Homo sapiens: one gene and its partners. The protein of the gene in region 3 purifies or fractionates together with the protein of the main gene of each other region. This does not show direct contact. Each region holds a gene or a part of one and is shown on either strand. Other genes may lie near its edges.

The links.
Region 1: the proteins of NELFA (region 3) and SEM1 purify together in Homo sapiens (co-immunoprecipitation; one large-scale study listed by IntAct). This does not show direct contact.
Region 2: the proteins of NELFA (region 3) and INTS12 purify together in Homo sapiens (affinity purification with mass spectrometry; one large-scale study listed by BioGRID and IntAct). This does not show direct contact.

What each region holds. Positions count from the first base shown.
Region 1 is NC_000007.14:96,688,212-96,690,664, reverse strand, and holds the end of SEM1 (26S proteasome complex subunit SEM1), read left to right. Parts: intron 1-1,698; coding exon 1,699-1,741; 3' UTR 1,742-1,903; downstream 1,904-2,453. UniProt on the Homo sapiens protein: Component of the 26S proteasome, a multiprotein complex involved in the ATP-dependent degradation of ubiquitinated proteins.
Region 2 is NC_000004.12:105,682,050-105,684,772, reverse strand, and holds the end of INTS12 (integrator complex subunit 12), read left to right. Parts: intron 1-1,455; coding exon 1,456-2,040; 3' UTR 2,041-2,146; downstream 2,147-2,723. UniProt on the Homo sapiens protein: Component of the integrator complex, a multiprotein complex that terminates RNA polymerase II (Pol II) transcription in the promoter-proximal region of genes.
Region 3 is NC_000004.12:1,984,818-1,988,477, reverse strand, and holds part of NELFA (negative elongation factor A), read left to right. Parts: intron 1-470; coding exon 471-560; intron 561-2,000; exon of another isoform or gene 2,001-2,075; coding exon 2,076-2,206; intron 2,207-2,294; coding exon 2,295-2,364; intron 2,365-2,613; coding exon 2,614-2,702; intron 2,703-3,558; coding exon 3,559-3,660. UniProt on the Homo sapiens protein: Essential component of the NELF complex, a complex that negatively regulates the elongation of transcription by RNA polymerase II.

The DNA of each region.
Region 1 (2,453 bases), on a different chromosome or scaffold from region 3:
TTTTTCTTGTTTTGTTGCACAAAGACTGCTGCTGTTTTCGTTTCAGATAGTGTATGTTCACTGTGTATGTCGTATGATATTAACAGTTGTGCTGAGGTTTTCTATTTTTGTCTTTGTTGATTTTTCCACTCAGCAGCCTCATGATTATTAGTGTTTTTGTTTTGTACTTGGTGGCCTCAATTTTTTTCTTTTGGTTTTTTAAATTCTAGCAAAGAATTTTTCATCTTTTCTAAGAATTTAGCTGATAGAAGAGCATTTCATCATCTTGTTTGTGATTGTAAACAATTTATACATGCAGTTAGTGACCAGCCACCTCCCATTAGGAAAGCCAATAGACACAAACCTGAAGGACAGATTTGGTATACTTGTTACTTAAATTGTAGGTTGAACTTTGGGGTTTTTTTGTTCATTGTTTTTGTTGCTGCTGTTAAAGTGAATATTCTACAGAGTAGAAAACTAAGGTTTAAGAAAGTTGTAAAATTACTTTTATTTTAAATAAATTATAAAATTTTAACATGAGATAAAATTCAAAGACAGTTACCACATTCCCTCAAGATTGGCAGCAAGAGTTTTTGTATGAAACATTTGAGTTTTCTGTGATCATCAGAATCTTTTAGCTTTTCCTTTCAGCCTTGACTCTTATTTTAATGTATACTACATTACATTTGTATAACTTTCTCTCATTTAGCTCTCAAAACAATGGAGATAAGTTGTTATAAATGAAGGGCAGATACTATAATCTCCAGTTTCCTGAGGGGCAGGGGAAGGGCCCAAAGGAAGCAAATTAGTTAGCAAAGGAAGGGCCAGAGTCAGAGTCTTGCACTGGAGTCTTGACTCCTAATCCAGGGTTTATACCACCACCCCATAGCAGAAGACAAGGATGATTCATTTGAACAATCTGTGGCCTTGATATAATTTATGGAAATTAGCTCACTATTTGTATTCTAAATAACTAAAAATTTTAGGAAAGCAAAGGAGTTTTGAGAAATGAATGCTAAATACTATACATTATTCCGGTCATGTGTTTGCATTGGAATAGTGTAGTGGTGTCTAAGCCAAATTTACTTGAGAACAAATGTCTATCTTATTGGATGTAATGATGTAAAGCATATTAATCATACTTTAAGTTTACTCAGTGTTTTATCATGGATTAGCCATCTACTAATTTTGTCATAAACTTTGAATTGTGGCAAATAAGGTTAGAGCAATACATATATGTCAATATGGAAAGCAATCTGTTTATTCTTTCTGCATATACAACAGTAATATAGTAATACCTGTTATGATCATTGTAAAATCCCTAAAGGTTTGATAGTGATGTGTACTTTGCCTGAGGTTAATGAGTCTCAAAACTTATGTTTAAATATTTATTAGGAACAGAACATTCATATAGCATTTGGAAAGTATTTGAAGGATAGCAGTAAGTCCCTCACATTTCTTCCACAAATAGACTTATAAGAAAATTAAGGAAGATAAAATACAAGTTAAATAATGGGAAAAACAAAATTTTATAGTATTATATTGACTCATATCCAATTTTCTTATGTTTTTTTTTCAGAGACAAAAGTAAAACTATTCAGTGGTATTGTAAATTGATGTCTCAGGCATAGCTCATTTATTTGTTTATTTATTGTATTGTTTCTAAAAGAATGTTTATTATAAAGAATACCTAGTGATGTTCTTTCTGTTTTATCTTAGAGCTGAACTAGAGAAACATGGTTATAAGATGGAGACTTCATAGCATCCAGAAGAAGTGTTGAAGTAACCTAAACTTGACCTGCTTAATACATTCTAGGGCAGAGAACCCAGGATGGGACACTAAAAAAATGTGTTTATTTCATTATCTGCTTGGATTTATTTGTGTTTTTGTAACACAAAAAATAAATGTTTTGATATAATCTTGGTTTGGTTCAGAAGTCTTAATCTTTTGCTTCTAATCAATTTTCTTGTCATGATTTTCCAAAACCTTATTATATATAGATAGTAAAATTTCATATTATGAAATTTTCTTTTTTTTTTTTAATGTTAACTGAGTGAGGCTCAGGTTAAATGATCTGGAGTAGATTTCACCTGATTCCCAATTCAGTACTTTTCTTAAACCACATCAATTAATTGTTACTTCTATTTTATAAGGAATTTCTTTTACATCACATTGAACCTTAATCTCTTCTGTATTTTGATAGCTTAGGCAACATTTGCTGACATTTATAAGGTGACCTTTCAAAACCTGTGTTTTAAAAATATTAATCATTTTAAATTGCTGTAATTTACTTAGTTCCTGAGCCATTAATAATATTATTAATGGTTGTTAGCGTATTATTGGTACTTAAAGTCCAAAGTAGTTTAATCACAGTAAGAATGGTGTCTTCTATTAAAATTGAGGAAGTGGGCTCAAGATACTTTATCAACAAGTGCATATTTTCAGGTACTACATAGCAGGCTCATTTAGTACA
Region 2 (2,723 bases), about 100 Mb from region 3:
GGTCTTTCATAACTGAAAATTAAAGGTTTACTTCTTGACTAACTTTTTCTCTCATTGCTGGTATATATTCCTCTAGGAATAAATGGTTTATGTAGTTTTTCTTCTCTGGATAACTTCATAAGATAGTTAATATGTTACTGTAAGAAAACTTCCTATCAATTTTCAGAGTATGTGGACAAATATCTGGATTCCTTCTCTTATAAATCGAATATCTCAGAACTCTATTTTTGTTACTTTTCACATTGATTAAAAATGTATGCATGCAGACAATATTGAAGGCTACCTTGATTTCAAGAGCTAAAAATGTTTTATCAACTATTTCAGAGTAAAGTTCTAAATTATAACTGGATATATTTTAGGTATAATAACTACCATTTTTTAAGTAGGATGTTATTTTGTAAAATTTTATCTTTTACCTATATGTGAATGTAATGCTTTTGTGAATCTTCTTAAGAGTATAAAGGTAGAAAAGGTGTCAATAAGAAGTTCAATTCAAAATTAATTTGAATACGTACATTTGTGCCTAATATGAAAGTGAAAAAATATATTCTTGTGTGAACAAGAGCAATATGTATTTATATAGTGGCATTGGTACCATTGTGAGCTTCTGATTAGCCAGGAAAGTTAATCAGAGAAGTTGAAGTGTTATACCCTTATGAAATATATCAGAGAATGAGATCAGTCCTACCCAAAATGTCACTGTGCAGCCTAATGAGGCAATTGATAAAATCCTTATTAAAGGAGCAGGAGACTCTTACATGATAGTTTAACCGGAATCATGGGCAAATTGTGAAACTAAAATCATGAGAACTTTTTAACACATCATAAAAATTGTACACTTCCAAGTAATTAACTTTGCATATATTTTGTACTCCTGTAACTGTTGCTCAAAATTTAGGAGGACATTTTTTTTTAATGGGTTTAGAATCTATACAGCTGTCTTCTTTCTCTCACACAGTCACTCAGTAAATAAATATTGACTGAATCTCTTCATCTTGGATATGTTCTCCTGAATATTCTGGGTATGGGCATTTTTGCTATTAAGAGTGAATTAAATTTTTGAAATGATCCCTAGTTATTTGGAGAAAAGTCTAAAAGAATTAGATGTTTAACTAAGGTCGATAATACTTTGTTGGGTAAAAACTATGTTAAAGCACTAAATCTGGTTTTCAGATATAGCTTAGAATTGAATCTAAAAGCAATTCCCAAAAAGGAATTTCATATATTTTCTTTTGGAATCATTAGAACAAGAATATGGTATCAAAAATTTTCTGCTTTGCAAATGATAATACCCACTAGATACAGATAAGTTTTGTTCTGTGTGGTTTTTCAGATCAGCTTCATAAGAACCTAATTTGGTGGTGTGATTTAAATTTCCCAATTCATAACTTGGGATGTTTATACAGGTACTGATTAAACTTGGCTCTAATGTAATTATTTACTTTATTTTTTTAGACATCCACAGTTATTTCAGGAAATTCTTCTAGTGCCAGCGTTTCCTCGTCAGTAACTAGTGGCTTAACTGGATGGGCAGCTTTTGCAGCCAAAACTTCCTCTGCTGGTCCTTCAACAGCAAAATTGAGTTCAACAACACAAAACAATACTGGGAAACCTGCTACTTCGTCAGCTAACCAGAAACCTGTGGGTTTGACTGGTCTGGCAACATCATCCAAAGGTGGAATAGGTTCCAAAATAGGTTCCAATAACAGCACTACGCCCACTGTACCTTTAAAACCACCTCCACCTCTAACCTTGGGTAAAACTGGCCTTAGTCGCTCAGTTAGTTGTGACAATGTCAGCAAAGTAGGTCTTCCTAGTCCAAGTAGTTTAGTTCCAGGAAGCAGCAGCCAACTAAGTGGGAATGGAAATAGTGGAACATCAGGACCTAGTGGAAGTACTACCAGCAAAACTACTTCAGAATCCAGCAGCTCTCCCTCAGCATCCCTTAAAGGCCCAACTTCACAAGAATCACAGCTCAATGCTATGAAGCGATTACAGATGGTCAAGAAGAAAGCTGCCCAAAAGAAACTCAAGAAGTAATGTGGCCAAGTAGGTTTTTGTATCATATTAGCCTAAAGATGAAAGGCTTATTATTATGATATAATCTGTAATACACTGTAATTTAATAAAAGTCTTCATAATCAAATTTCTATTGTTTCTTACCTTAAAATGCTAAATATTATATAACAAAACTTGGAAACTTTCATTTTAAATCAATCTTCAACATTTTTATTCTAATGATTTCCATAGTGTGTGAAAACAATGATTAGAATGACTGGTTCTCAATGAGATCTTCAGAAGATTGAAAGCATCTGTGAATTTAAGGAAAAAGAAATAGTTCATCTTCTAGCAAAGCCCCAAGAGTTGATCCTGATGAATGAGGTGCCTTATGTGGCGGCAGGGACGACCCAACATAGTTTTCTATTTTCCTCCCCGTATTCTGGGTGTTCATTTTCTGTGCTAGCCCCATTTCAACTGACTCTCCCTCTCCCTCCCAATTATTTCATCTTTTTCAAAATTATTTTTTCATTATTGATTTCTCATATCAATGGATTTTCCTAATTGATTTATCATACTTCATATTATATCTTTACCTTTTTTATCACCTCATTTCAATTATTTAAGGGTATATCTTTTTCCAATAAATTGTGAACTCTCCTGGTGCTTAATACAATATTTTTTCTCACATTGCTCACTTTTCCTACATTGCCAATGTAATACAT
Region 3 (3,660 bases):
TGGCCACAGGGTCTGCTTTGGGCACTCGGTGTCCCCTGACCCTTCAGCCACACTGAACCAAGTCAGGAATATCTCTTCGTTTGTTTCTTCCTCATATTTTTGTATCTAGACCGTGCCTGCTGACCCTCAGCGAGGACGGTGCTACCACTGGGCCAGGGGGAGGCCCGGGTCGATGGAGAGGGCTCATGAGGTCCCTCAGCTCCTCCTCGGCTGCCTCCCCCCTGCCATGGGGTCCTGGGAGGTGCAGCCACAGCCACCCAGCTCCCGAAACTTGCTCACCTGAGTGAGTTTCTGACTCGTTGTAAAGTGCGAGCTGGTGTCAGGCCCGGCTCGGAACAGCTGCTCATTTAGAGAGAATGCAGCGTTCACGGCTCAGGCCGTCGGATGAATCCACTTGACAGAGATGTTTTTACAAGGGCCAAGGGCTCTCGCTCTGAGGATCCCTGACATATGTGACCTCTTCCTTCCAGCCACGGAGACCGCCCAGCAGTTGAAGCGGAGCGCCGGGGTGCCCTTCCACGCCAAGGGCCGGGGGCTGCTGCGGAAGATGGACACCACCAGTAAGGCCCCCACCCTGGTGCCGTGAGCCTTGCTTTTGGGGCAGAGCTAAGGGCTTCACCTGGAGACCCGCTCCCTGTTGGGGAGGTGGTGCCTGTGAATGGTCTTCAGGCAGCAGTGTTGGGAGCCCGTGGGAAAGCGAAGGCACTGGGGCAATTTCACCGGCTTCTCCCCTTGGGGAGCTCCCTGGGAGGATGTGTGGGCACGGAGACAGGAGGGCCGGGATCTGAGGACAGTGCTGGGCACGGAGACAGGAAGGCCGGGATCTGAGGACACCGCTGGGCATGGAGACAGGAAGGCCGGGATCTGAGGACAGTGCTGGCCCCTGCTCCTCTGCTGTTGGCACCGGTGGCTCTCGGCCTTCCCAGCTCGGGCTTTCGGCCCCAAGTGCTGCTCTTGGGTTCCGAGTGTCCCTGGGCGGCTCCGCGGGGAGGACGTGACCGTGCTCAGCTGCCCGTGGGGCTGTGCCCCCCGCACCCCTCCATCTGCCCTTCCTGATTTGTGCTCTCAGGGCTGGGCGTGAGCTTAAGCAGGATGCACCCTGATCACAGGAAGACGGCGTGCCCCTGGGAACCATGGCAGGGCATACTCACCCCAGAGGGTGCTGGATAGTGACCTGGGGGCCAGAGGGCAGGACGGGTGTCGTCCTGTGCTGAGACAGCTGGGTAAACTTGCAGATGGGTGGGGCTGAAAGGGCAGCCTTACAGGCGCTCTCCATGCAGCTCCCAGACCAGCCTGGCTTAGTTTATTTGGGCTCCCATAATCCCACAGTGTTCACATGGGACCTAGTAGAAGGCATCTTGGGTCTGCTGACTATTGTCGCTGTGTGGGGGGCCGTCCCTGGGTCATGTTCCTGCCCACCGCAGCCGAGGTTCCACCTTGCTCTCCTCTACCCCGCCTGGAGCAGACCCTTGTCTTTCCACCCCCACCAGGCATCCCAGGGCCAGGGCTGCACCTGCTGGCCCAGGGAGGGTGGGCCAGCCGTTGAGCAGTGTGTCCAGCCTGGCCCGGTGTGCTGATGGCACCATCCCCCGGGCGTCCTCTCTCCGGGCCTGGCACCATGAGAGCCACGCACGCCTTGGAGGGTGCGTGTGGGCGCTGGTGGGTAACAGCGTAGGTAGGCCTCAGGAGTGTCCTCAGGGGACGGGGAGAAGGCTTGGGAGGGCGGCCCTCAAGCCCAGGCGCCTGGCTTCATGCCCCTGCCGGTGGAGGCACAGGAAGGAGGCAGAGCTCAGCCCCCGCCACACTGGTGAGAGACTCCACCTGGTGAGATCCTGTGGCTGGGCTGGGGTGCCGCTGTCTTTGTTTGGTGTCTTGGCAAAGTGTGAGGTCGTGGCTCCAGGCGTTCCCCTGCTCCTTGAGGTCCGGGATCCTGGGGGTCCTGCCCGCTGCCCGCCAGGGGTTTGGCCCTTCCCCTCTGCGGCGCTAGCCTAGAAGAGGGTGGGACGTTCTGAGCTCGGGGTGGGGGACGTTTGCCGGTCACTGCTGCTGGCGCCCTGACTGTTGCCGTCCTCCAGCCCCACTCAAAGGCATCCCGAAGCAGGCGCCCTTCAGAAGCCCCACGGCGCCCAGCGTCTTCAGCCCCACAGGGAACCGGACCCCCATCCCGCCTTCCAGGACGCTGCTGCGGAAGGAACGAGGTGTGAAGGTAGGCCCGTCCCCCAGCTCCTGTGGCACCCCGGGGCCCGTTGCGCCCTGGTGCCGTCACTAAGGCAGGGCTGTGCTTGTCTTGGCAGCTGCTGGACATCTCTGAGCTGGATATGGTTGGCGCTGGCCGAGAGGCGAAGCGGAGAAGGAAGACTCTCGGTGGGGGTTGGGGCCTGCGTGTCGGCGGCAATGGGGGTCCCTGCGGGCCCTGCCCAGTTGGGGTGGGTTGTGCCCACGCTCGGCGGGCAGGGCTGTGCCCCGTGAGGCTGCTCTCCGTGGGTGGGTGCCTGCTTTTCTCCTCGCTCCTTGGTGGCCTCCCCTGGGAAGCTGTTTGATTCCCTGCCGCTGCCCTGAGCTGACACTGCAGACGCGCCCGGGCACTGGCGAGGACTCCTGTTTTGTCCACAGATGCGGAGGTGGTGGAGAAGCCGGCCAAGGAGGAAACGGTGGTGGAGAACGCCACCCCGGACTACGCAGCCGGCCTGGTGTCCACGCAGGTAGGGCTCGGGGCTGCACCCCATGTCTGGCACCACTGCGGGTGCCCCTTTTGTTCCGATTGTGGCCACTAGTGTGCTCTGTCGGAGAATATATATATGTATGTACATATGTGTGCAGTCTGTATTTATGTATATATACGTATATGTACATGAGAGGCAGTGTGGGCCGTGCCCTGACATGGGCATCTGACTCAGGCTTGGAGCGGGAACCTGCCCCACGCTTGCTGGAGGGGCTGCCAGGGGAGTCCTCCTCAACCCTGTGCCTCAGTGTCCCGTCAGGCAGGGCTGGTGGGACCTAAGCCTTGCACGTGGCCGTGAATGGGTGCAGGACAGGCCTGTGGGGGTGCTGGGTGGTCAGAGGCCTCAGTGTCCCGGAGACCAGGCCCTGCCTGCGGGTGGGAGGCAGCCACGGGGCGCGGCAGGTGCACAGAGGCTGCAGTGGGTCGTCTGAGGCCAGGGCCTGGAGGAGGCCACACTGTGGGGTCACTTCAGGATAATAAGCTCCTTTCTTCCCGCCGCTGCGTGTTCTGTGTTTCTTAACATGAGCATCTTCCTTTATATCAACGCTTCGTGGTAAGAAAAAGCATCGCTCCTTCTGTGCTCAAGATGGGCTGTTTGGGCTCCTCAACCCCTCCCCTCTCCTACACAGGAGCGGCTCAGTCCCCAACTCTGCTGGGGCGCCAGGGGCCAGGGGTCCCGTTGTCTAGCCCAGGGAGCTCGGGAGAGTGGCCCCCGCCTTCCTGCTCTAGCTCGGGGGGCCACAGCCTGTGGCAGTGGAGCTCCGGGTCGGGCCATGTGTTAGCACATGCCGGAAGCATGGCCTCTTCTGGAAGGAACCTTAAACTCTGTGTTCCAGAAACTTGGGTCCCTGAACAATGAGCCTGCGCTGCCCTCCACGAGCTACCTTCCCTCCACGCCCAGCGTGGTTCCCGCCTCCTCCTACATCCCCAGCTCCGAG